Linked DNA regions of Homo sapiens: all the other regions are reported to be linked to region 1. Evidence: microRNA targets listed by miRTarBase, many of them from high-throughput screens and not tested one by one. Region 1 holds a microRNA gene; each other region holds the end of a gene's coding sequence.
What was found. The annotated mature microRNA hsa-miR-3074-5p reads GUUCCUGCUGAACUGAGCCAG and lies in region 1 at 4,180-4,200, shown strand. An mRNA with a match to its seed (bases 2 to 7 or 8) in the 3' UTR can be bound and repressed. Matches are read on the target gene's strand: a 7mer-m8 pairs with bases 2 to 8, a 7mer-A1 pairs with bases 2 to 7 and ends in A, and an 8mer does both.

Region 1 (7,643 bases):
ACTTGCTGCCTCTCCCTGATCTTTTATTAAACCTGGCAAACCCAGTTAACTGTTCGTACCTACCACTCAGGGGACAGATGGCCCTGTGACGTTGCTAGTGGCTGCAGGCCACAGGGGCCAGGGTGGCGTGTTGCGGCCTCTGCCCTCCAGCCCCTCAGTGGCCCTTCAGTGCCGTTTAGCCCCACGCAGCCTCAGGGCATAGCCATGGGGCTCCCCCATCCCATGGCATCTGCAAGTCATTTTAGAGCCTAAGAAAGCCCCTTGTGAGCAGGTGTTTCTTGGCTTCTACCTAGACAGGAAGCTGATGTGTCTTGTGGGGACCCTCCAGTCCTGGGTCCGTCTGTTCAGTGGAGGCGCTGGCTTGTTGGTAAAGAAGGTTGTTCCTGTCAGTTTCTTACAGCCTGTTGCAGGGTGGGGGGAGCTAATATCTTCACATCTGATTAACTGAGAACCTGTGACAGGTCCCACCCATGGGTCGGCCGCGGGGAGCTGCTGAGCTGAGGCTGGGAAACAGCACTTAACTGGCGGATTCAAGTTCAGGTTTCCATGCTTTCCAAAGCAGCCCGTGCCCCCACCCAGCCTGCCCTTCCATCAGACTGGATTAGGAGTGAAGGCCCAGGGGGGCCTCTCAAGTCTTGGCTGCTGAGTGTGACAAGACAGTATCCCCAGGAGTGCCTGGACACGGAGGCTTCAGCAGATGTCAACGAAGGGCCCACAGCTGGGGAGGCATTGTGGCGTGGAGGAAAGCTCTGAGCCATGTGGACCTGCGTTCAAACCCTGCCACTTGGCAGATGAATCCACAGTGGGAACTCAGGTTCCCCAGCACACCCACATCCTGCTCTTCCAGACAGCCCGTCTTCATCCAAAACTACTATGTCCCGTGCAGACAGCCCTGCTCTCCGAAGGTGCTATGGCTGGGCTAAGGCAGTGAGCGTTCTAGCCTCAGTTGTCACACGCCCTTTGATCTGAGCTAGTTTCTGATGTGATACTTCACTTAAAAATGGAAGAGTACTGGTCACATCTGTCTCCTACTGACCCCGAGACCCCGGTTTGCTCTCAGGCTGGAATCTAGAGGCCTCTCTGCCAGGCCCTGGGTGGAGGTTCTCTCAAGTCTCTTAGGAGATGCCAGAGGAGCAGCTAGCAGAACCCATTCAGAGTCAGCTGAGGCACGGGTGAAGGATGCCGGCGAGGGCAGTTGCAGAGCCTCGGGGAGCCTCCTGCCTGGAGAGAGTGGCGGAGCTGCTCTCCGGCTTCCTCCCTCCCTCACCTCCAGGGGCAGCCCCAGCACGGGCAGGGTGCCCCCAGGTCTGGAGGCAGCAAAGGCCGACTCCTGGCAGGACCTCAGTCAAATCCGTGACAGCAATGTCCGGTTCTGATGAGGTCCACCAAATTTATGCCACCCACTGGCCAGATCCCCGGTGGTCAAAGCAAGTCACAAGACCCGGTGACTCACAGGAGCCAGGGGATTAGTGGTCTTTGTGCAGAACCCCACCTATTCAGCAGTTCAGCTTTGCTTTAGTGGTTTCTAAAGAAGATAAAGCATGGCTTTCACTTTTTGGAAAAGCAAGGTCACCCCAAACCACTGGGCCGGTGAGCCACCCGCAGCTCTTGAGAGCTCCAGGTGCCAAGCATCTGCACACAGTGGGAGTGGGAGCCTCGCAGGGCAGTGCGGCCGGTACTCCCACGGTCCTTCCTGGCTCTGCCTCAGTGAAAGCCAAACACACTTAGAAAGCGCAGAGAGAGAGAGAGAGAGAGGCCGGGTACAGTGGTTCACGCCTATAATCCCGGCACTTTGGGAGGCCGAGGCAGGTGGATCACGTGAGGTCGGGAGTTCGAGACCAGCCTGACCAACGTGGTGAAACCCCATCTCCACTAAAAATACAAAATTAGCTGGGCATGGTGGCGGGAGCCTGTAATCCCAGCTACTCGGGAGGCTGGGGCAGGAGAATCGCTTGAACCCGGGAGGCGGAGGTTGCAGTGTACAGAGATCGTGCCATTGCATTCCAGCCTGCGCAACAAGAGTGAAACTGTCAAAAAAAAGAAAGGAAGGAAAAAAAAAAGGCAGCAGCACACAGAGAGAAAGCATCGTTCATTCTAAATCTCCACAGGAAGCCGCGGTCGTGTATTTATTCAAACATAACAGTCAAGTTCTGAGCCATCCTCCACGATGGCACAGCCAGCTATACAGTCCCACGCAAAGGCATGTGACAGCAGAGAGCAAATCCTAAGAACGTTCTGGAATCAGTCACTGGGACAAGAAAAGAGAGTTCTGGAGACCAAGGCCTCCCAGTCCAGAGCTTCTAATGAGATCCATGGTAGAGCCCCACTTCACCCCAAACAGGCCAGAATTTGTGCTGCCCCCTGGAGCCAGGCAGAGGAGACTGTGGGTGTGTTCAGGTGCACTCATGCTCAGCCCAACTTGGCACAGGGCCCATGGCTGCACCCGTTCCTACAGCCTTCTCCAGGCATTTTCAAACATTCTGCCCCATGGACAGTGCCAAGGAAGCTCAGTGCCCAGCTTCTGTCTATACCCTAAACCTTGTGGAGAAAGAAAAATCATACCACCAGACTCCCACGATGCCTGAATATGCCCAGGCTCTCCATTTTATCGGAAGAGGGTGCCCCACGCGCAGCCAAATTACTTTTGTTTTCAGGCTTCTAAGAGAACTAACACTACCTTGAAAACAACAAAGAAACTAGTGAGGTGGGGGGGGAACACCAGAATGTGGAGAATACCTTTTTCTTGTACGTGCTTTTTTTTTTTTTTTTTTTTTTTTTTTGAGATGGAGTCTTGCTCTGTCGCCCAGGCTGGAGTGCAGTGGCGCAATCTCGGCTCACTGCAACTGCCACCTCCTGGGTTCAAGCGATTCTCCTGCCTCAGTCTCCCGAGTAGCTGGGATTACAGGTGCCCACCACCACGCCCGCCTAATTTTTTGTATTTTAGTAGAGACAGGGTTTCACCATGTTAGCCAGGATGGTCTCGATCTCCTGACCTCGTGATCCACCCACCTCGGCCTCCCAAAGTGCTGGGATTATAGGCATGAGCCACCGCACCTGGCCTTTATTATTTTTAAACAGTATGAAATTTAGAAGCAAACACGTATACAAAAAAAAAATCCATTACATTTATTAATAATATATCTTAGATTCTCATCCTGTTCTTTTAAATGGCGCCCACTGGTCTCATACAGAGGAGCTGTGTGACTTTCTGGAATTATAGAAATATCCGCATCCAGCCATGTGCTGAGCAGACCAATGTAAAATGTTCAGCAGGTTTTCCAATGTCTCTTGGATATATTTAATCATCTCTGCAGAAGAACTCAAAATCTCAGAGCAGCTCCACTCCAGATCCAGGGCAGGAGGCAGCCTCCAGGGAGGGAGGCTGCGTTTACGAGAATCTGCCTTTTGTGTGTGCCTGGCTGGGACCAGCCTCTGGGAAAGAGAAGCACCAAGATGTGAACAGGGCTGTGGGCCGATGGCTTTAGCAGCCACATAATCCCTCCTTTGATGTCCAGGGTCAGTTCGAGCCTGGTCCCCCAGGCTAGGAGGAGACGAATGAAAGAATCTTGCTGTGGTCTTTCCTGCAAAGGAAACAGCAGTAACATTGATTACCCAGTCACCGGGAGGAATTCTTGTGAGCGCGCACCTCTGTGTGCCTTTGCTCTCCACTTTCAAGAGAGGACTTTAATCACAGGACAAGGAGAAGACCCAGGCCCATTTCAGTCTCCGGGACGGGTCACAGCGAGCCGTGTGACGCTGGCCTGCTCACACGTGGCCATGACACCAGCAGGCTGTACTCAGGCTTTGCGTACACAATAGCTGCTAGGAGTACCCATTTCAGACACGCACCCACTCTAACTGTTCTCAGAAAGTCTCAGCTCACCTCGCCGTGGGAGAGCTGGGCCCTGCCTCCCTTACACATGGGGGCAAACGGCCCCCTGCTGGCACTGTGTCCTGCCTTCAGGCCTGGGAGCTCTTAACTTTCTGCCAACAGGGTTTTCCAAGTCTACAAACCCCCACGCCGCAGGAGCACATGCAGATGACTGGCACCGTGCTGCCGCCGGGCCGGGGTGGACGCAGGGTGGACGCGGGCCTGTCTGCCGCGAGTGGGAGCCCCAGCTCTCCTGAGCCTCGGGCACTTACAGACACGAAGGCTTTTTGCTCAAGGGCTCGACTCCTGTTCCTGCTGAACTGAGCCAGTGTGTAAAATGAGAACTGATATCAGCTCAGTAGGCACCGGAGGGCGGGTCCAATCGACAGCCCGGAGAAGCAGCGCCTCAGCTGGGAGCTCCGTGGGCACCGTCTGCTGGCGCAGGAGACGCGAAGGCCTGGACTGCAAATACAAGAGAGAGTTCACCGCGCCCAGAACAACAGGAGCTCCTCCGAAAGCCCCGCCCCGCCCCGCTCACAGCCATGAGCTACCACATGATTTCACACGACTTAGGTGATGCATTTGGTTTTAGTTTTTTGTAAGAAGAATTTTTGCAACTTTCAATACATTTGACCTTTCAGACAGATGTCCGATTAGTGCATGTTTCTGTGGACAGACTTAAGGACTCAGTACATGGCTAGCATTCCCAGCAGGAGACAGTGCATCCTTGGGGTCAAGTGGTCTCTCATCCTCCAGGATCGCGCTCCGCACCCAAGCTGACTGTGCAGCAGCGGCCGGCCCGTCAGCAACGGCCTCTGCCCCAGCGGCTCCAACTTAACTGTCCCCATCTCACCTTCTCTTCAGGTGCAGAACTTAGCCACTGTGAACAAAGCGGAAACCAATCACTGTTCACCAATCAGCTAAGCTCTGCACCTTGTTAGAGAGGTCATCGCTGGGCATAAATAAAGGGACGGTGACCGGTGAGCATCTTCCTCAGCTGGTGGCTTCTTTTGTTTCCAAAGAAGAGCTACGAGATGCACCTGTTCTCCAATCTGCAGTGAGCGCGACCACGGTTTCTGGAGGAGCAGCCAAGGTCGTGGTTGCGTGGTAATCCCTGGCAATGTGATTTTAATCTTAAGTCACAAATCAGCATGCCAGGAACCCAAGCAGCCAGAGCACCTGAGAGCAGCGCCACCCCGTGCTGTCTGCACACACTGGGCTTCCGCGGAAGGACGCCGGCGACACTGCCGCCTTCACGCCTGTTATGCTAGCAAACAGGTGGAGTTTCTGTTTGTTGTTCGTTTAGTTGGCATCCTAGAGGTATAATTTCTTGAATCAAAGGGACTCCAGAGATGACCATAAAAATGCCAGTGCAGCTTTGGAACTGAAGAAAAATGCAGGGACCGGCCATGCGACACACACAATTGCTAAAGGCAGCTGTCCTTGCTATTAGTTTACTGCCTCTAACCCTTGGGGACAAGATCCCTTCTCTCCAGGCAGATTCTAGCTGCCCTGGGAAGGCTTTGGGGACTCTCAAGTCAGGAGGTCCCCCTGCTGGAAGGGGCCCTGGGACAATCCCGGCCACTGTTCCTCACGGGGACTGGTTGGGGGGCAGGCTTGCAACCCCTGGATGCATCTGGAGGGGTGGGGACAGGATCGAAGATGCTGGGGAGGGGGAAAAGGGAGACTTGTGACCAAGATGACTCCTTTGCCTGCCTGGGCAAAAATTCCCCATAAAGAGTGGCGAGGGGTGTGCCCTGTGGTGCTGCTCCAAAACCTGCACCAAAGGGAATGATGAAAGGACTAGCTGGCCTTGTAGTTTCACACACTTTAACACGTACGCCACGAAATAACAAAACGAAAGAGAAACACCATTTACACTGATTACTATTATGAGGCCGGCAGTGAGGTAAGTGCACAGTCTGTGTGCCGCCAGCCCGTCCTGGAGGGGAGCCGCGTCAAGTCTGCAGCAGGCGTTTCGCTACGAGACGCTCAGTCCCGTTTCCCTTTCCTGGCACACATGGTTCCTGACTCTTCTGGAAGAATATGATCATGCTTCTGAAAAACTTTTTATTTCTTTTCATTATTAGAGTTCTTTCAGATAAATAAGCTACTTAAACACGTTACACAGAAATGGTTTTCATAAGCACAAAACATTAGAAGAAAACTCAATGTTCAAAACTGAGTGAAGAATATCAACACCAAATATTCAATATCCATGAAAAATTATAGAGAAGCTATAACACGAAAAATGCTTCAGATTTGATAAAGTTTTTTTAAAGATACAAAATTAGACATCCCCTATTAATATCATATAAAACACTGAAGAAAAACGGAGCAGACACAGAAATAATGATGATTGTTAGAGAAAAAAAATCTCACAGCTATCCTAACAAAACCTTGTGTACTACCGCTAGGTTGCTTTAATAGTGTAGAAACCCATACTGAGCAACTAACTGCTAGGAAGTAAATCTAACAGGTTAATTCCAGGCACAATTAACAGAGGAAGTGATTTAAATAATCTAGGACTCCAATAGAAGCCAGGGGAGAAATTCCGCTCCAACACAACAAAGCAAAAAGTAGGACCTGCCCTCAAGACACAGGGTCATGGAGGCCATATGCCACGTGTGCTGTGTGCGCCGCGGGTGCTGTGTGGTGCGTGCACTGTGTGTGCCACATGTGCTCTGTGTGGTGCGTGCGGTGTGTGCTGTGTGTGCCGCAGGTGCTCTGTGTGGTGCACGCGCTGTGTGTGGTGTGTGTGCTGCATGCAGTGTGCGCGCTACGTGTGGTGCATGTGCTGTGTGTGCTCTGTGTTGTGCATGCGCTGTGTGTGGTGTGTGTGCCGCGTGTACTCTGCGTGGTGTGTGTGCTGTGGGTGCTCCAGGTGCTCTGTGTGGTGTGTGTGCTGCGTGTGCCGCGTGTGCTCTGTGTGGTGCGTGCGCTGTTTGGTGTGTATGCTGCATGTGCCGTGTGTGCTCTGCGTGGTGCGTGCGCTGTGTGTGCTGTGTGTGCCGCGTGTGCTCTGTGTGGTGCGTGCGCTGTGTGGTGTGTGCTGTGCGTGCTCTGTGTGGTGCGTCCTCTGGTGTGTGTGTGCTGCATGCAGTGTGTGTGCTACGTGTGGTGCATGTGCTGTGTGTGCTGCGTGTGCCTGGAGAGCCTCCTGCCAGCCGATGACCAGGCGTGGACAGCCCAAGGAACCTCCAATTCACACATGGCTAGAAGAAAACATCTGCTTGCAGAAGCTAGGCTTTGGAGTCACACGGCCGCTTAAACTCCTGTATCAGCCGTGACCCTGAAGACTGGACCAGCGCTTCTGCCAGGCTTCCCATTCCATCTCTAAACCTACTCAAGATGTTCCCCCACAATTTTTGTTTCAACAGATTATAAAACCTGAAGTGGCCAAAATAGTGCCAAGGAGTGCCGCTGTGCCTCCAGGTGGACAGCCTCTGCTTCCCGGTGACTGCCACAGCCAGGCAAGGTGCTCCAGGGACCCGGGGCTCCCATACCAGCCCAGCACCCACTTGGCCAGTTACTCTCCAGGCCCTGGGCCAGGGAGCCGACTATTGATGCTGCGGGTAGTCTTGGCTAACTATTCGGCTTACTGATTTAGTTGGCTCCTAAAAGGAGTATCTGGTTAGAACTAAATGACAGAAAGGAAAGGGAGAGAATCACCTCGTTAAAATAACATTTCGGCCACCACCTGGGCTGAGGACCTATCCATCTGCTCCTTGGTCCGCTCGAAGCACCTACGGGCGAGCTGCTGCTGTCTGGC
Region 2 (3,000 bases), not on the chromosome of region 1:
GTTGAGTATTAATAAAAAGAAGTGAAGGTGTGACTATTTGCTCAGTGGAAATAAAACCCTCAGACCTGTGCTCAGTAATTGGGAAAAGCAATTTCTGGTCCTTACTTGACTTCGTTTTTTAATAAGTTGGACTCAGATAAAATGCATAGGTAATAATGAAATAACATTTTGATTCTACTATGGTTTTCAGTAAACAATGTAATATATTCCAGCAAATGAACAAAACATCTTATGATTCAGGAAATGCTACCACTTTGGCCTATAAGAATTGGTTTATTTTCCTTTTTTTCTGGAAACTATTAGGAGGAACAACATGACAGAAGTATCTCTGTCCTGATTAGAACTGTGGGGACAGAGAATATGTTTAAATAAGGGAAAGTTGAGGCATATTCTATTTATTAATGAAGTGTGCACTTTACTCCTATTTTTCTGAATTTTCAGCGAAGTTAATCTTCTGGTTCGGTTCACAAAGTGCAGGAGAGCCTACCAGCTTGAGAGAAAAGGAGTCATGCTGTATTTGTTTCCTTGAGTGAATGGCCACTCAGCTGCTGTGTTTCTCCCTGCATGTGGCTGAAGTTTACATTGGAGGGTGACTTCCTGATTGCCAGTTAGCATATGTGTCCGGCTACCAGCCGCCTGACTGGCTGAGGATGCTCTTTGTTTGTTCAAGGATGAACGTTCTCCCCCTGCCTTGCAGGAAGAGGGGAGCAAGGTGCGCCCGGGAGACGCGTGACAGTGCCCTGTAAAGCCAGTAGAGGAAATCTTGTGGAGTGTGAATGCACAGGCTTAGATTCCCCTGTCCCTGAGTCGGGGGCATGTGCTCGTGGAGAATGACCCTATCAAGTTCAAGGTGTGGCATCTCCTGATCCAGCAACAGGATTTGTTCCAGAGAAAAATCCCCAGGTCTTGGGACTGTTGACAGATGGCCATGACTATGCTTAATGTGGTCATCAACTGAGAATGGTCCGTCTCATCTTTGAGTATGCAATTACCTTTATAGCTGATTATGACACCCTCAGATCATATCATGAGGTGGACAAGATGAGTCCATGGCCCATGCTGAGAACTGGTACTTCTGTCTTCATAGACTCACTCACCAACCAGAGATGTACGACGGACCCCAAATGGTCTGTCAAAAATGTGAACTTGCACTAAGACAAGACCCAACATCAGTGACATTGGACACAAGATAGAAATCAGAGAACAGTTACTGTCCAGCAGTTTTAACCACCAATACCCATTTATTTTAATGGAAAAAAAAATCTCTGCATTCTATATGTTCCAAAAGGATTTACCATTGAAACAAATACAATATATGGAACTCTATCTGTATAATTTCACTACAACAAAGACAACATATGACTTCTACTTCCTACAGAAGGCTAACTGAAAGCACAAGTGCAAACATAGATTGCATAAGAAAGCGTGTGTGTGTGCATGTGCGGTTAAAACCTTTAGTAAGCAACTGCATTAAAATATGCTAAGACACTCACCTTACCCTAGTTCGTGGCGAGCTCTAATAAAAAGCCACAAGCTGTCACTAGTTTTATTTGATAGAAAAATTTGGTGTGAGCTTTGATGATTCATTTATGGTTTATCAACAAGAAGGTAATCTTAGAACAAGCACTAACTTTCCGCTTTTACATGCTCACAGAATACAAATCAGTTACTTTTCATACATAATGAACGTCTTTTATTTTCGGGTTTGCAAACAACGGTAGTCAATTCACACAAAAGGGTACTTTTAAAACTACCTGTATTTACTCTATTTTATGCCTGTATATATGAAACAAACAGCGTGAATGTGCATAAATGTATGTCTGTACATGTGGGTATATATGTGTATACAAGATGGTACCTGTACACCTCTTTGTATGCATGTATGACCTCCATGATGACAGGTGCAGTTGTACATTTACTGAGGAGGGAGAGATTCTCTACCATGATCTGTGTCCCCATTAGAATCAGTACGACTGTGGATTCGGGACACATACAAATGCAGGTTGGTGCCCATGAAAGAAAATGTCAGCCCTTTTCTTGGCATTTGGTGGTGAAATTGCCTGCTCTGCTCCTCACCTCCTTGGCTCAGGATCACGGCATCAGATGGCAGTGTAAATTGGTTGTAGTCCTCGAACTCAATAAAGAGAAAGGACTTCTTTCTCTGCTCTCCCTCTCTGTGGACCTGCCTGGCTGGTTGTGGCAGCATTCAGACTGAACGGGACAGTGGAGAAGTAGCTTCGGAGCAAAAGTGACAGCTCTGTGGTCTGTCCTCATGCTGACCTTGATGCGGGAGGCCCTGGAGGGTTCAGGTGTCTTAGTTTCCACCCACCTTGCTTAACCTTGCAAGGAAGAATGGCATCAAAACGAGGCTTCTCCAGGATAGTCTCTCTCTATAAATACCGTGTATATATACATACAGATACTCATACATACACCAATACTAACCCACAGACAAAGCTGGGTGCCTGGAGCACTGGCTAGCGACATGTTAACACACCAGAAAAAGTAGTCATTGTTCCTGCTCCCAGAAGATCAAGTCATATGTCATGATCTTTAAACATTCAGGGAAAATTCAGAAGATTCCATTAATTAAAGGAGGGAGGAAGATGCTGTCAAAATGATGAAGTACAGACTAAGTGAAATTGTAAAGAAAATAAAAAACCGGAACAATTGAGGCCTAGTTGTGAAGTTCGATAGCTGTAAACCGCAATCTTCAGATTTGGATAGATTTTTTTTTTTCCTGTTGCTATGGAAACTTGGGAGTCAAGCTTCAGACGTCAGGAGTTCTCACAGACCTGAATAGAGAGGGTTCAGAGTTAAGTCGGGAATATCACCACTCAATTCAAAACATTTTAGCTAAAAGCCAGAAAAATGACAGGCAAGGTATAATAAACACATTTTAAACATCACACGACTATGGGGGAATTTTTTTTTTCCTTAAGGATCACATTGGAAGACAGAATGAATGGTTATATGGTAAAAAGCTGGACTTCTCTGAAA
Region 3 (7,643 bases), not on the chromosome of region 1:
GGCTCTGGGAGTCAGCTTCTGGCTGATGAACAGTGGATGTGGCTCTTGCGGCACAGAGCGGGGTCGCAGAATGCTGTACGTGGCGTGCATTTGACTCAGCCCTCCCCCAGCTCACAGTTTCCCTCTTGTTTCTGCTCAGTTTTTATGGCACAGGCCTCATCGCGGGCCACGGCTTCACCAGCCCTGAACGCACCCCCGGGGTCTTCATCCTCTTCGATGAGGACCGCTTCGGGTTCGTCTGGCTGGAGCTGAAATCCTTCAGCCTGTACAGCCGGGTCCAGGCCACCTTCCGGAACGCAGATGCGCCGTCCCCACAGGCCTTCGATGAGATGCTCAAGAACATTCAGTCCCTCACCTCCTGACCGGCCACATCCTTGCCGCCACATCCCGGGTGGCTCTGGGGCTCTGAACTCTGACCTGTGAATAGAAGCAGCATGCACTTTGGAAATCCGGCCTTTTGACCAGAACGCACACCTCGTCGGGGGGCCCAGTCCAGCCACCCCCCAGCACTTTATGTAGAGAGTGTGACATAGACCTGCATATTTGTCAGTGCCATGATGGAAGAAGCTGAGCATGTCTTACCAAAAACAGAGAGAACGAGCCTGAATACAGCAGATGTAGGGGACAGCCGTGGGACCGCGTGAGAATTGAAGCGGTGGGGTTCCCGCACCCTGGGCTGGCTGGTGGTTTTCTCGGGAAGCAGGACCCTCCTGACTGGTGCTCTTCCTGTGAGCGGATAGAGTGATAGACTGGGTCGTGTGTGAGACGCATGTGCTCCACCCCACTCCTTTTGGGGGAAGCCAGGCAACAGTGGCCTCTGGGAGGGGGTCAGGAAGAGGCGAACAGCTCAGGCAGCGCAGGTGTGATGGGCACAGTACGCAGAGCAAGCTCGGGAAGTTGGTAGGATCTCAGGCTTGGGGCCGGGACTCTGGAGTGAATCCCCATTTCTCTACCGGCTTGCTTGGAGTTTGGACAGAAGCATTTCACCTCTGATCTCAGCTTCCCCACCTGTGGAGTGGGTTTAGTGACCTGAGTCACTAGGGAATGTCACCTGAATGCACAGCCCAGCCCATGCACCTGCCCCAGCCCCTCCAGCTTTGGAGCCAAGGCCATCGTTCCAGCCACTTGACTGTCCTCGACGGCCTGTTCCAGACAGGGCGTTTGTTTTGTCCATGCCTTCCTCCCTGCACGCACACGGCGTCAAAACCAAGCTGCCGGCCACTGTCTCCAGAACGCAAGGCTCCAGGCCCGTGTGTCTGAAGCAGTGAGTGGTCCACACAGGTGCCAGGAGTGCCCATATGAGATGACGAGGAAACCCCTTTGCAGGTGAGGGGACAGCTTTCTAGAAAAGCCACACCTGCATCTGGGGACACACTTTGGAAAGTGGGACCCTCCAGCCTGGAGACCCCATGGACTGATGCCTCCACTGCTGTGTGCCCCATGTTGTGTTAACACCTGCGTGTGGGGACCCCATCTGAGGTCTTGGCTGAGGTTGGCATCTCCTGAAGAACAGAGAGCACGGTGTCCAGAGCTGGCCCTTCCCCCAGCCCACAGCCAGCTCCGTGCCCGAGTGGGCGTCCCCAGCGAGCCTTCCCTCTCTGCCGCTTGTCCTTGTGTCTGGGCTGCTCCAAGTCCTTGTGCTGGGCACCCTGGACACGTCCTGCTGGTGAGGGACCTCGGGAAGGTGACAGTCTGTGTGCCTTGGTGTGGAGACCAACCTGAGGATGTCCTGGGAAATGTTTTCCTGATGAATTTCTCCTTGACTGGCCTTTAAAGAACATAAGAATTCCCATTGCCCAGCCTCAGTGCATTTGGCAAATGCTTACTTTGCTTCCCAGAGTCAGAGAATTGGCAAAGGTTCCTAAATGGTAATCTGGCCGGCCTGGGAGAAAGACTCACGAGAAAAGCCAGTGGAGAAAGCGCCCTTCCAGGGCGGCAGCAGCGGGAGCCACGCAGACCCCGAGGCGCACCTGCTGGCTCTTGTGTGTGGCCCCAGTTTCTAGCGGCTTTTGCAGCATTAGCCTACAAGCTTTGTCACTCCCTGCCCTCTGTGGTGGTCACTGTTTTTCTCTCTTGCCAAATGAGGCAGTCTCTGAGTGACGGTGACTGTGGCCTTGAAGCCTGGAGGACTGTTGGGCATGTAGACTGGCACCTTGAAGATTCACCATTGTTTAAATAAAATCAAGCAAATGCTTTTTTACCAAGAGCCCGAGCCTCGCTCTAAGGGACGCAGTCCTAGAGGCGTGCCCTTTGGGGCTTGAAGAGCACACTGTGGGACGCACGTGCTTCTGATTAAAGGAATCTCAGATCTCAATTACGCTTCCAGTGTTTGGGTATAGAAATAGCTTCCACCCATCATGTCTCAGCCATGGGCTGTTGGTCAGTTCATGTGGCTCCTGGTTCTGGTGTGTATGTTGGGGGCGGGGGTCTCTCCATGGTGGTGACCTGCAGTGATGCCAGGCAGGGCCAGAGCCACACAGCCAGGAAAGGGAGGCCTTTTTGGCCGCACAGCCAGTCCCTTCAGTCGTGACTACAGGTCTTGTTTTTTCCGCTCCGATGTGTCCTTAGCCAGTTCTTGGCTCCGGTTCTGTAGGGACAGGCACTGAATCTGCGCGCCTCAAAACAGCAGCTTCCCTTCCGGGGGAGGGCATCCACCCTCTCAGGGGATCCTGCAGGTGGCCCATTTCCTGCAGGTGAGAACTCGGAAGGGCTGATGTCGTCATCAGAGGCCTAAGGGCAGCTGAGAGTTGGATAAAACCGTTTCCAAGGAGGAGGCTGAGTAACCCAGTTCAGGACAGCCAAGCGCATTAGGCTTGATTGGGGAAGGTGGCAGGTGGAGTTGGGAGGTTGGGACTCTCCATCTTTTGCACCACGGATGCCTTTCTGTCGCTGTCTCACTCTGGGGCAGGATCAAGTCTGCTCTCTGGAGTGGGGCTGCCTGCAGTGCAGCTCTGCACACCTGAACGTGTTCTTTGTCACTTGTTTGGAAATGATGTGATTGAAGATTTCAGAGAGGTCATTGGAGGCTTTTCTGTGCCGGCACTGAATGTTCATTTGCATGAGGAAGTTGCAAACGACTTCTGCAGGCTGAGATTCAAGGCAGGTGGTATTGGGGTCCCTCAGCCCACCTGGGCCGTGACCTCAAGTGTCCACTGCTGAGTGTGAGTGGCTTTGCAGGCCTGGTGGTGGGAGAGCCTCAGGCTCCCTCCTTCTTCGTTCCTGACCATGCCCTGGGCCCCTTCAGTCTGCCTGCGGCTCTGTGGCATCCCTGCCCTGACACTGGGCACCTGTGCCCCTAGCAAGCCCACCTGGCACACGAGGAGGGAGGGGTGGGTGGCCATGTCCTTCCTCTAGCCACATGCCCTGCTGGCCGCTCCATTCTGAGCTTTGTGCAGAACCGGGTCTGAGCTGGAGATTTTTCTCTGAGAACCTGCAGTTGTGCTGCAGCCGCACGCAAGGGCCCTTCAGCCGCTGGCTCTGGCTTCCCTGACTCCTCAGGGCGTGTTCACCCCCAGGCTTTCTCACCTGCACACGGTTAGGCCATTTTCAGTGCTCGTGGGCAGTCACGGACAGCAGCAGAAACTCCTCAGCCCCTTTGTTACTTCAGAACGCCTGCCCACATGCATCTTCTGAGCTCGTGTTGTCCTCATGGCCGTGGGGTCTTGGGTGCGAACAGGAGATGCTGAGCTGTGGTCCACCGTCCAAGGTGCTGCAGAAAGCAGCTAGGCTCTTTTAGGATGTTTCTATTCTGGTTGCTGCCTTCGTGGTGTAACTTTTAAGAACACTTACGGGAATGTGCTCATAGAACCATCACCTGTCCTGAGAATAAAACTCCTGGAATCATGATCAAGTCCAGTGTTAACGTGGCCCAACCTGTCTGTACTTCTGGGGAGAGACCAGGAACATCACTGGACTCCTCATCCCCGTAATTATTTAGAGAAGATGCAAGCAGCAGATAGTCTCCATGCGGCTGGTACTTTTTTTGTTGTTTTTTGAGACAGGGTCTTGCTCTGTCACCTGGGCTGGAGTGCAGAGCGGCGATCATGGCTCCCTGAGGCCTCAACCTACTAGGCTCAAGCTGTCTGCCCGCCTTAGCCTCCCAAGTAGCTGGGACCACAGGCACCCACCACCACCATGCTTGGCTAACTTGTTTTTGTAGAGATGGAGTTTTGCCATGTTGCTCAGGTTGGTCTCGAACTCCCGATCTCAGGTGATCCACCCGCCTCGGCCTCCCAAAGTGCTGGGATTACAGGCGTGAGCCCCTGCGCCCCAGCCTTGGGGCCTGTCTTTGAATGGGAATGAGACTGTGCAAACCGTGGACTACCCTGTGTCACCCACAGCTCAGTGGCCTGCCTGCCGGCCCTCAGGGGCTGCTGACCGGGAGACCAGCCAGAGCACGAGGGGGTCAGGGCTGTGTGGGTTTTGGCCTGATTCTGCATTTGGTTGTTTCTGGGGGCCATGTAGCCTGCCTGCATTAGGAAAGCGCTGTGCCATCTGATCATGAGCACCTCTGCACCCCCTGGTAAGGTGACCTTGCAGCAGGAGCTGTGCCCTGCCTGGGTAGGCACCCACTAGGTAGGACCGGAGCAATCCTGGCAGCCGCCACCTGCACCCGTGCACTTGTTTCTCCTCACAGTTTCAAGTAAATCCGTTTTTGAAGGCTTGTTGTGTGTTTTGTGATTTCTTTGGGAATATGAGTTGGACGGAGGCGAGAGCCTTAAGCCATGCGAGCTGTCGGCCTGGGAACCCAGACTTCCCAGCTTCTTGAGGAAGTGTCAGATTTCCCGCGTTGACAGAAGGGAGCATTGAAGGGATGCCTTGGAGCCCAGACAGTGGTTGTCCCTGTGTCCTTCCCTTTGACCTGGCATCAGAGGTGTCTCGAGTCCCTACCCAGGGACCCAGAGGAGTTCGGGCCCCAGTAGATTTTCTTAGATTTAAGCCAAAGTGAGTTGCATTATCTGCAACGAGGACAGATATGGGAGGGAATGTGCTGAGAGCCAGGCAGATGAACTGAGGATCTCATTGATCTTTCTTTTGTGTTTACTAAACTCATATGTTCTTGTAAACAGTTCTTTAGCATAGACAGTGAAAGTACCCCCTGTTCTCATCCCAGCCTCCCCGTGAGTCACTGCTGCTAATTAATGCTGTTAGCTTGGAATTGTAGAAACAGGATGTTTTCCATGGTAATGCACTCAAAGTACACCCTCGATTGGCAGAAATTGGCAAGTGTGATTTTCCAAGTGTTGGCAGTGATGCAGGGGAACAGGAACGCAGGTGGGGCAGCTGTTTTGGGGACAGCTGGTACTAGCTCATGGCACTAAGGACACGGGCCCAGGGACTGGCATCTGCATCCTGAGGTGTCCACCCTCGGGCAACGCGAGAGCCCAGGCATGGGCCACGCAGGGATGTTCATTGCTACACTGTGACAACTGTCACAGGCCGGAAGGAGGCAGGTGGACTACGGTGGAGCCACCCATGCTGTCACCTGGCAGACGGGCACACAGCCTTGTTCCGTTGCAAAACAAGTGAGAGATGGTATTGGTGTAACATGTAAAAATGCAAATACTTAATTTTTATCAATTCATGTGTGGGGAAAAGCTGAAGATACGCGTGGGAATGGTGTGGTCACTTCTAGGGGTGTCGGAGGGTAGAACTTCAACTGTTTTGCTTTAAAAAGTAAGGATCGCATGGCAGAACTAGCATCTGTTCACCTGTTGATCCTGATACCGTGGATTACGAGACCCCCCCTCTTTTCTGTGTGGTTCAGAAACAAGCCCCTCAGACAGGACACAGTGCCCAGGGGCAGTGACCTGCAGGCCCACCCACTGCCATCTCCGCTGGTCTCGGGGTTGCCACATAGCCTGCCAGCTGCGGCTGCTTCCTGGGTGCCCTCCAGGGAGAGCAGGGGATCGTGGGTCCCCGGCGGTGGGTGTTTCCTTCTCCGGGGAGAGCAGGGGATCGTGGGTCCCCGGTGGTGGGTGTTTCCTTCTCTAAGGTTTGCTGCTGTTTCCAGGCCTTTCTGTGGGGCCTGGGTCCTGTCCTGGGGCCAAGCCACGGGGTCATCCTCAGCTGCACTGGGCGTGCCAACCACAAACGAGTCACTTGCTACAAGCAGCACCATGCAGCCTCCTGTCTGGACGAGACCCTGCCCCCCACAGACTGGAGACGCACCCCGATTTCCCAGGTCACAGGGGGAAGTGTGGATCTGATAAGGGACTAAATGTGGCGTCTTTCATATGTTTCTCTTACATATTTTATTTTAAAATGAAAAAAAAAATAAGGTCATGGGGAACGAGTAGAAGGCTGCTTCCTGCTGCAGTTCCCCTCTTGCTCCAAGAGTGGGGATGGCCCAGCTGGGGGGACCTGCTCCGGGCCTGGGTGCCGCAGCCTCACCTAGACACAAGGGCACAGGCTTTGTTCTCCAGGGATCTGTCCGACACCAGCATCCCCCCGGGGGCTCAGACCCTGCACTTTTCTGTCTGCTGCTGGGGTTGAGGGGACAGCAGATGGGCAGCGAGGGCTGGTGGCTGCCCAGGCTGGCCATGCCCAACACCAGCAGGTGAGGCGGAGGCCGAGAGGGTGTTGTGGCCGGGTCACCTGGGCCCATATGGAGCTCACTCCTCCCTGTGGGGGCCGCTTGGCTGTGCTGCCGGAGGCATGGCGCTTTCCCCACCCGATGGATGGCGGGGCTTCATCCTTCCTCCCCTTGCAGGAGGCACGGTGCCCAGGGTCCTCCGTTTGTCCCCCCTCCTTAGGGGAGGTCCCCTTTTGTGGTGTGACCTCTAGTGGGCATGTAGGGTCACTGCAGAGGGCTTGCCCCCAGCCAGCAATGTGAAACAAAATGCCATTTGGATAGTTTCCAAACCTACCCCGGCCCCCTCCCCATTTTGACTTGAAAATCCCCAAGTGACAGAAGGCACAATGCGTGTCCTTCCTATCTTTGCCTCCGTCCCTCTTCTTCCTGAGGGGTGCGATCCCTGGCGCCTTCCCTTCTTCCTTGTGTGCCGGCGTGGGCCCTCCCTGCCGTCCCTGAAGCCCACCTGCACTGCCTCTGAGCCGCGGAGGTCCTGGAAGCAAGGTGGAAAGGTGCTGGAGGGCCAGGGGGAGGCGCCCCTGCAGCGCTGTCCCTCCCCAGCAAACAAGCAGCTGGGCTCTGCTGGGTGTTCTCCATGGCACCGTGTTTGGCAGACATTAACCACGGAACAACCAGGAGTGCTGGTGTGGCTGGGATCAGCCCACTCCACAGGAGAGGAAGCAGCAGCTCAGAGAGGCTGAGTAATTTGCCCAGGGTCACACAGCCAGGGAGTATTAGCCCAGGGCCCCAGCCCCGCAGCCTCACCTCTCCTGAACATGCTCCTCTAGGAAGAGCCGCCGCCGGTGACGCTCAGTGTCAGTTGCTCTGGGACCCTTTCACCGAGTGTGGGGTGGAATCAGAAGCGCCAGCTCACACAGCAGTGGGGCCAGAGCAGTCCCGGCTGAAGCTAGGCGCTGATGAACTTGGACTGGAAATCTTAACTTGGGCTCAGCCAGAGTGTATTGCTTATAAAACCACGACTTTTCCCTTCCCATATGAGGACTTCTAGTACCTTGAATTCGGTTCTCATATAAAAACACGAGGGTGCTGTTTTACAGAAACACAGGGA
Region 4 (7,643 bases), not on the chromosome of region 1:
ACACTCAGTCTCTCCTTTCAGGGCCAGCTCGTGACCAAAGATTACCCGGCCTATGCACTGGCTGTCATCGGGCTGCTTGTGGCCTCCTCCACCATGTGCATCCCCCTGGCGGCCCTGGGGACTTTTGTTCAGCGTCGCCTCAAGAGGGGAGACGCAGACCCCGTGGCCTGAGATGTGGGCTTCCCAGCCGCTCACGGTTTTACAGATACTATTTACAGGCGGAAACTCCTCGGCTGCTTTTTCAAATGCTTAAGCCAGGAGTGCTCAGCCCATCAACTTCCTGAGTGTCTAAAGAAGATGAGGAAGGTGTGCAGGAAGAAAACTCCCTTGGGAGAACGCACACCCTCCCGTGGTGGCTGTTCCTCCCTGTCACCTGCCTCCTCATCATGGAAGGGGGTGGGCTATGAAAGCCGGTCTCAAAGATAACTGCATCCTTCATTCCAGGAAAGCCCTAGAATTAGGGCACATTGCAAACTGAAATATGACTATAATTCTTATGGGACCAAATTTAAGCAATTTTTGTTTTTGGCTGAAGAGACACCAAAATATTAGAGGACAAATATTTTTAGATCCATTTAAGGAGTTTTGAAGTGCCTAAGATGACCTATTTGTCAGTGGTGCAAAATTAATTCTCTTCTTTTTTGAGTTGTAGTGAATATGCAATTTCTGTGTTCCCCTTCCACCCTTTAAATCTTAGGATGACAAGTTATAAAGAAAGAAGATCTTTGTCTGGGACCCCCAAAGGGATCCTTTCTCTAAGGTCTCTGACGGTGGGTCCAGGACCAGACCTCTCTACAAAAAATTGCCCCAACTACAGTTTGCAACCCCAAACCACATTAGAAGTCTGTGCAGACATCCCTCCGTGGTGTGTGTCTTGGTGCATTGGAAAAGGAGTCAGGAGCCACTGTGAGGTGAGAATGAAAGTGGATCTCAGCTGGGCACGGTGGCTCACGCCTGTAATCCTAGCACCTTGGGGGTCAAGGTGGGTGGATCACTTGAGGTCAGGAGTTTGAGGCCAGCCTGGCCAACATGGCGAAACCCCATTTCTACTAAAAATACAAAAAAATTAGCTGGGAGTGGTGGCATAGGCCTGTAATTCCAGCTACTCTGGCTGCTGAGGCACAAGAATCATTTGAACCTAGGAGGTGGCGGTTGCTGTGAGCCAAGATCATGCCACTCCACTCCAGTCTGGGCGACAGAGCAAGACTCTGACTCAAAAAAAAAAAAAAAAAAAAGTGGCTCTGACTTTCCCATAGGCTTAATATTACATTTGGACATCGTGGCCAACTCTATCAAGACCACAAATACCACTTACAATTAATTTTAAATTATTCATCTGTACATAGTTTTCTAAAATGTATATAATTCAAACAGAGCATCTTGTAACTGAAGACACACCATATCTATGATATCGCATTAGTCCATGTGGGGAAAAGAAAGATCAGATTGTTACTGTGTCTGTGTAGAAAAGGAAGACATAAGAAACTCCATTTTGATCTGTACTAAGAAAAATTGTTTCTGCTTTGAGATGTTGTTAGCCTATAACTTTAGCCCCAACTCTGTGCTCACAGAAACATGCGCTGTAATGAATCAAAGTTTAATGGATTTAGGGCTGTGCAGGATGTGCCTTGTTAACAATATGTTTGCAGGCTGTATGCTTGGTAGAAGTCATCGCCATTCTCCATTCTCGATTAACCAGGGACACAATGCACAGCAGAAAGCTGCAGGGACCTCTGCCCAAGAAAGCCTGGGTATTGTCCAAGGTTTCCCCCCCACTGAGACAGCCTGAGATATGGCCTCATGGGAAGGGAAAGACCTGACTGTCCCCCAGCCCGACACCTGTAAAGGGTCGGTGCTGAGGAGGAATAGTGAAGGAGGGAGGCCTCTTTGCAGTTGAGATAAGAGGAAGGCTTCTGTCTCCTGCTTGTCCCTGGTAATGGAATGTCTCGGTGTAAAAAGCTGACCATTCCCATTCGTTCTATTCTGAGATAGGAGAAAACCGCCCTGTGGCTGGAGGTGAGATATGCTGGCAGCAATACTGCTCTGTTACTCCTTGCTACACTGAGATGTTTGGGTAAAGAGAAACATAAATCTAGCCTACGTGCACATCTGGGCACAGTACCTTTCCTTGAACTTATTCGTGATACAGATTCCTTTGCTCACATGTTTCCCTGCTGACCTTCTTCCCACCTGTTGCCCTGCTACACTCCCCTCGCTAAGACAGTAAAAATAATGATCAATAAATACTGAGGGAACTCAGAGGCCAGCGCCGGTGCGGGTCCTCCACATGCTGAGCGCCGGTCCTGGGCCCACTGTTCTTTCTCTATACTTTGTCTCTGTGTCTTATTTCTTTTCTCAAAAAAATTTTTCTTTTTTTAACTGCAATAAAGTAGGTCGTTACCCCTAAAGTGAGCGAGTCCCTTCCTGCTCTAACGTCCAGTGCTTCCTTGAGATCATGGAATTCTGGAGAGTTTCTGTGGATATATTTGCACAGATATCTTTGAAGACACAAACACTCACCTGGGACGTTGGCCGGAGATGTCTTTTTATTTTTGTGCTGTAAAATTCTCTTACAGCAAAAATAGGCTTTAGAAAGGTCTTCTACTGTCTTCAGCAACCATCTCATCTTCCAGCTTCACCTGATTGTCCAGTTATCATACATTTGACTTTCAAATGTATGAACCAGCATGTACCCCATGGATTTAATCTTATCTACCCCGTGGATTCAATCTTCTTATCAGAAGGTTCTTTTATGTCAAAAAACCTGCTGTCAAGGCTTGAAGAGCCGGCACACTCAATGGCAAACACAGCACCGAGTCTGCTCTGAATCCTGGAGGATCTGGCCCTCCTCTCAATCCCCACTCACAGTCACCGTCTTACAACTCAGGGCCACCTGGGATCAGTCATCAGTCAGGGTGCGTAAGCCTTGAATACCAGGTAGCCTCAGGAGTGAAAAGATAAATGTCCTAGATCATTACCTTATTCAGTGTCCCCACCTTGCAGCGCATTCCAACCACCTGGGAGCATTTAAAACTCCAGATGCCCACACCACACCCTGGGGCCACCCATCAGACCTTCTGGAAGCAAGACCTGGGCCTCCATGGCCCCAAAAACTCCCTAGGTGATCCGATGTGCAGCCAAATCTGAGAGGCCCCATTTAAAAAAGAAAGAACATGGGTGGTACATTGAGGAGTATTTACATTTTATAAAATGACTTAAAAATTTGAAGGCATTTTTGAGCATTTCCAATTATATGGAAGAGTTACTTCTACGGAATAGTTTTTGCTCATGGAACTCAAACAGATGAAGCACCACTGTTACAGAATAATGTGCTCCAGATGAAAATGTCTCGTTTCTGTGAATTTCATGAAGAGCAGAACATTTCTCAAGAATCCTCTTGAGCCAGTAATCAATCCTGTCTCAAAAAATGTTCTTTGCCATTTCCTAGATACTGCACAAAAGTGGCCATGTCGACATTTGTCCACCCACCCTCCAATAAGCTGGAGCGACAAAGGGACATTCCATCCCTGTACCCTTAGTGGTAGCCATGACACGATGGCCAGATCATGGACTCCGGAAAGCTTTCTGTTTTTACTGGAAACATAGCAAACCTTGATTTAGCTCCAAGAAATTGAGTAGGGAAATATTTGTTTTTTAGCAATTGTCATAGTAAATAAAACTCTAAGCAAGTGTATCTACAGTTTTTGGTTTTGGGTTTTGCTTTTGTCACTTACTGGATACAGTTTAAGACTTCTCTCAACACAAGATTTTCTCTCATGTAGAAACACAAGCTAATTTTGAAAAAATGGAAAATAAGTGGGGGGGACAAATCCATCCAACCTTTTTTTCTGTCACCCTTTTCTGCGTTTACCTCTTCATATAACCCGTGAGACCGCACCAATGCAGTGGATGAAGTCTATCATGGGAAGATGAGAGATAGATAGAGTCCACAAGAAAAGTTAGAAAAAAAATTTCTAATTGGCCGGATTTAAAACAGAATGTGAGCCCCTTGGAATTGCTGCAGAATCTTGCCACTCCTTTTGAGAGTGTCCCGGGCAGTCTTGCCCATCTCAGCGTCTCTTTTTGGCCAGGGCCATGCAGAACCACATTAGGTTTGAATGTGACCTCAGAGCCTCACCTCAGAGGGGGGAGTGTGTAAACTATTGTATTTGATTTTTGTATGAGTTACTTTACATGGAAAAATTAACTTATGCCACCTTATAGGTAGAAAAGCTGGGGTAGAGAATTAACTAAGCCGATTTTCTGCCCTACATCAGTCAGGGGAAGAAAAAAATAACAGATTTACACATCCCTTTGCAAGGCAAAAATTGCATCTACAAATAGCAAATTCTTAACCTGAATTTCCTGACCAGTCTCTTACATGTGGATCACTTTTCTATTATTCACCCTCCTGTAGGGTGGGTGGATCAGCCTTTTTTGAGATTACCCAACTAGTATATTACAAACCAGTCCCTTGGTATGCGCCGGGGGCAATGGTGAACAGGATAGACACAGTCGCTGGCCTTTATGGCACTTACATTCTGGAAAAGGAGACAGACAATGATGCATAACAAATAAATCATATGATTACAGACTGTGATCATGTCTAAGAAGGAAATAAATGGCCCGATGTGGTGGCGTTAACAGGACAGTACTTTAAGCGGTTGAGGAACTTCGTGAACTGAAATTTGAAGAAGAAGGAACGAGTCATTAAAATTCCTAGAAGGCCTGTCCAGGAGAGGTGACAGCAACTGCAAAGGCCCTGAGGAGGGAAAGAGCAGAGAGGAGGCCTGTGGTTGGAATGGGAAAGTGAGCGATGGGAAGTGAGCTTGGAGGAGGGAGCAGGGGCCAGATCACATAAGGCCTCACAGGCCACAGCAAGGAGCTTCATTTTCGTTGAAGAGAAAGAGAGTGCCACTGAGGGTTCACTGTGGGGTCTGGCAAGATCTGATTTATGTTTGAAAGATCACTGTTGCCATAGAGGATGGATGGGAGCGGGGCATAAAGGGAGGCTGGAAAATCACTCCAGAATCTACTGTAGTAAAGCCATGGAAGATGATGGCAGCATGGACGTGGGAATGGATATGGAGAAAAATAGGCAAGCTTGAGTTATACTTTGGAGGGAAAGTTGCCAAGTCTTGCTGATGGGTTGGATTCCCAGCTGAGGGAAAGGGGGATAAAGAGCTTTACCTGCTGGGGGGATGCTGGTGCCATTTCCGGAGATGAGGAAAGTGGGGAACAGAGCTGGCCTGCAGAGTAAAAATCAAGAGTGGTTTGACCATGTGAAGTTTGAGATGTCTGTGAATTAGGTGGAAATATCCAGTAACCTGTTGAACACAAGAATCTGGAGGTTGGGTTACGTCTGGGCTAGAGATATACATTTGGGAGTTACAGTGGAGAGATGCTATTTAAAGCCACAGGTCTAAATGAGGTCATCCAGGGTGAGTATACACAAAGAAGAGGGCCTGCGACCAAGGCCTACAGGAACTCCAATGTGTTTTCGGACATGGCCACATGTGATTTTCCACCTCTCCCACGGAGGGATAGGGTCTGTGTATTTAGGTGGGCTTGTGATTGCTTCAACCAAAAGAATATGATGGAAGGGACACCATTTGACATTCAAGGCTAGATCATGTGGCCATGCAGCTTCAACCTGGTTTGTTGGAACATTCACCTGGGGAGCCCTAAGTTGCCATGAATGAAGCCCCACCACCCTGAGGCTGCTGTACTCCAGCTCACAGGACCAGCTGAGTCCACCTTCCAGCCATGCCTGGGCACCAGACAAGCTTGGGCCAGACAGACCAGCCCATCTGTCAAATGAATGCCACTGAGTCACCTCCATCAGTGCCATCTGGAACAGAAGAATCACCCAGGCAAACTCTGCCTGAATTCCTGACTCACAGCATTGTGAAGTAGAGAGGAGAGATTAACAAGGAATGGAGCAGCCAGGTGTGGTGGCTCACACCTGTCATCCCAACACTGGGGGGCCCAAGCCAGCGGATCGCTTGAGGCCAGGAACTGGGGACCAGCCTGGGCAACATGGCAAAACCTCGTCTCTACAACAAATACAAAAATTAGCCAAGCCTGGTGATGCATGCCTGGAGTCCCAGCTATTCGGGAGGCTGAGGTGAGAGGATCACTTGAGCCTGGGAAGCAGAGGTTGCACCACTGCGCTCCAGCCTGGGTGACAGAGCAAGAACCTGTCTCAAAACAAAAAACAAAAACAAAAAACAAAAACAAAACCCAGGAGAATGTGTGGTCCCAGAAGCTCAGAGAGAACATCATAAATTCTGCTAAACATGACTTACCACTTAACACTTTCTACTTTTCCTAATGTTAGTCTATATTTGAACCCAACTATAATAGGAGCTTGATTTGGGACATAAAATGTTAACACAGTATTTTAGTGGATGGTACTTTAGGTTTGTACAACTAGAATAAAGGGCAATAGGCATGCATCACTGAAAATGGTGAATGGAGAAAGATGAACACCTGAACCTTTGACTAAACAAAAACAAAAAGCAAATTCATGCTCAGAATAATCTACCAAGGCAAGTGTTAGGAACAAACAGATCATCTAACTCCTTCACCTGGGACCAGGGAATTCACTTAAACGTGTCACAGCCCCTTACTAATTGGTCCCCCAGTGAGAGCACATCATGGAGCCTCTGCATGGATGTCCAGCCCAGAGGAACGAGGCCAGAGGCAGGAAAGGATGAGCGCTGGACACCAGGGAAGACTCCCCACTCGTAGACTTACCCGGATCTCTCAGCAGGTGTGTGCAGATGTGCATGTGTGTGTGCATGGCTCTTAAGGAATTACCACCTGGATGAGATTTTTAAAATTTATAATTGAGGGGCCATCAGATTCAACACTCAGGTGAGGTACAAATAGATTATAGCCCATGTTTCTCAGCTTCAAGGCCAGAGTAGTCACGTCCATGCTGGCCTTTCACAAAATGAATCCCATGGAAGGCTGGTCCTATGAGATGCTCTAGGAACAAAAGATTCTACAGGCTACAAAGTTTGGGTGCTGCTGCACAGCCGATACCTCCTCTAGGAGAGTCACTTTTCAAACCTCTGAGCAAAGTCCTGCAGGTTAGATAACTCTGTGTAATTCAGTGTTTGCATACAGTTCTCACTAGAGATCCACCGTCAGAAAACAAGTGTTAACACAGAGAACCCACATTACTCCAAAACTGCACTGCAGGTCAGGAAAATGCATGGCATCAAAGCTGTCTGCCTAACAGATGGAGGAGCCCAGGGCTCATGGCAGGGACAGAACCATCCAACAAGATGCGTTCTCAGCAGTGAAAACATACCGGCAAATAGATGAGAATAGAAAGCCCCAACACCCACAAGTAGAGCGGACCTGAGAGACGATAGGGGTGGCACTGCAGGCCAGGAGGGACAAGATTCAACAACATTCTCAGCAACTGGCTAACTCTACAGGAAAAAGAACACTGGACTCTGTCAGATGACATCATATGGTCTTACATAAGCACAAAATGTGCTAGGAAAATACTGGTCAATTCAGCACCATTTATACACTTCTTTCATCAAAAGTCATCATAAGAAAATGAAAAGACAAGCTAAAAACAGAGAGAAGATATTTGTAGTATATTAACTAACAGATAATTATTC

Region 2: miRTarBase lists CDH13 as a target of hsa-miR-3074-5p. Seed matches in the 3' UTR shown: 7mer-A1 at 2,737-2,743 and 7mer-m8 at 2,516-2,522.
Region 3: miRTarBase lists FBXO31 as a target of hsa-miR-3074-5p. Seed matches in the 3' UTR shown: 7mer-A1 at 2,482-2,488.
Region 4: miRTarBase lists SLC6A20 as a target of hsa-miR-3074-5p. Seed matches in the 3' UTR shown: 7mer-m8 at 311-317 and 7mer-A1 at 442-448.

The regions. Positions count from the first base shown.
Region 1 is chr9:95,082,620-95,090,262 of GRCh38, reverse strand. It overlaps MIR3074 (microRNA 3074), which reads left to right and starts at 4,169; the gene lies at 4,169-4,249. It overlaps AOPEP (aminopeptidase O (putative)), which reads right to left. Exons shown (of 17, transcript NM_001193329.3): 16 at 7,544-7,643; 17 at 3,104-3,581. The coding sequence ends at 7,548. MIR23B (microRNA 23b) reads right to left here and starts at 5,055; the gene lies at 4,959-5,055. MIR27B (microRNA 27b) reads right to left here and starts at 4,818; the gene lies at 4,722-4,818. It also overlaps MIR24-1. RefSeq lists an enhancer at 1-310.
Region 2 is chr16:83,794,818-83,797,817 of GRCh38, reverse strand. It overlaps CDH13 (cadherin 13), which reads right to left. Exons shown (of 14, transcript NM_001257.5): 14 at 1-2,795. The coding sequence ends at 2,788. CDH13-AS2 (CDH13 antisense RNA 2) reads left to right here. Exons shown (of 3, transcript NR_120308.1): 3 at 442-582. Among named protein-coding and RNA genes, the nearest start is that of CDH13-AS2, 7.7 kb to the left of the region's middle.
Region 3 is chr16:87,324,007-87,331,649 of GRCh38, reverse strand. FBXO31 (F-box protein 31) reads left to right here. Exons shown (of 9, transcript NM_024735.5): 9 at 140-4,663. The coding sequence ends at 362. Among named protein-coding and RNA genes, the nearest start is that of C16orf95-DT, 10 kb to the right of the region's middle. RefSeq lists an enhancer at 1-403.
Region 4 is chr3:45,751,506-45,759,148 of GRCh38, reverse strand. It overlaps SLC6A20 (solute carrier family 6 member 20), which reads left to right. Exons shown (of 11, transcript NM_020208.4): 11 at 22-3,700. The coding sequence ends at 171. Among named protein-coding and RNA genes, the nearest start is that of SLC6A20, 41 kb to the left of the region's middle.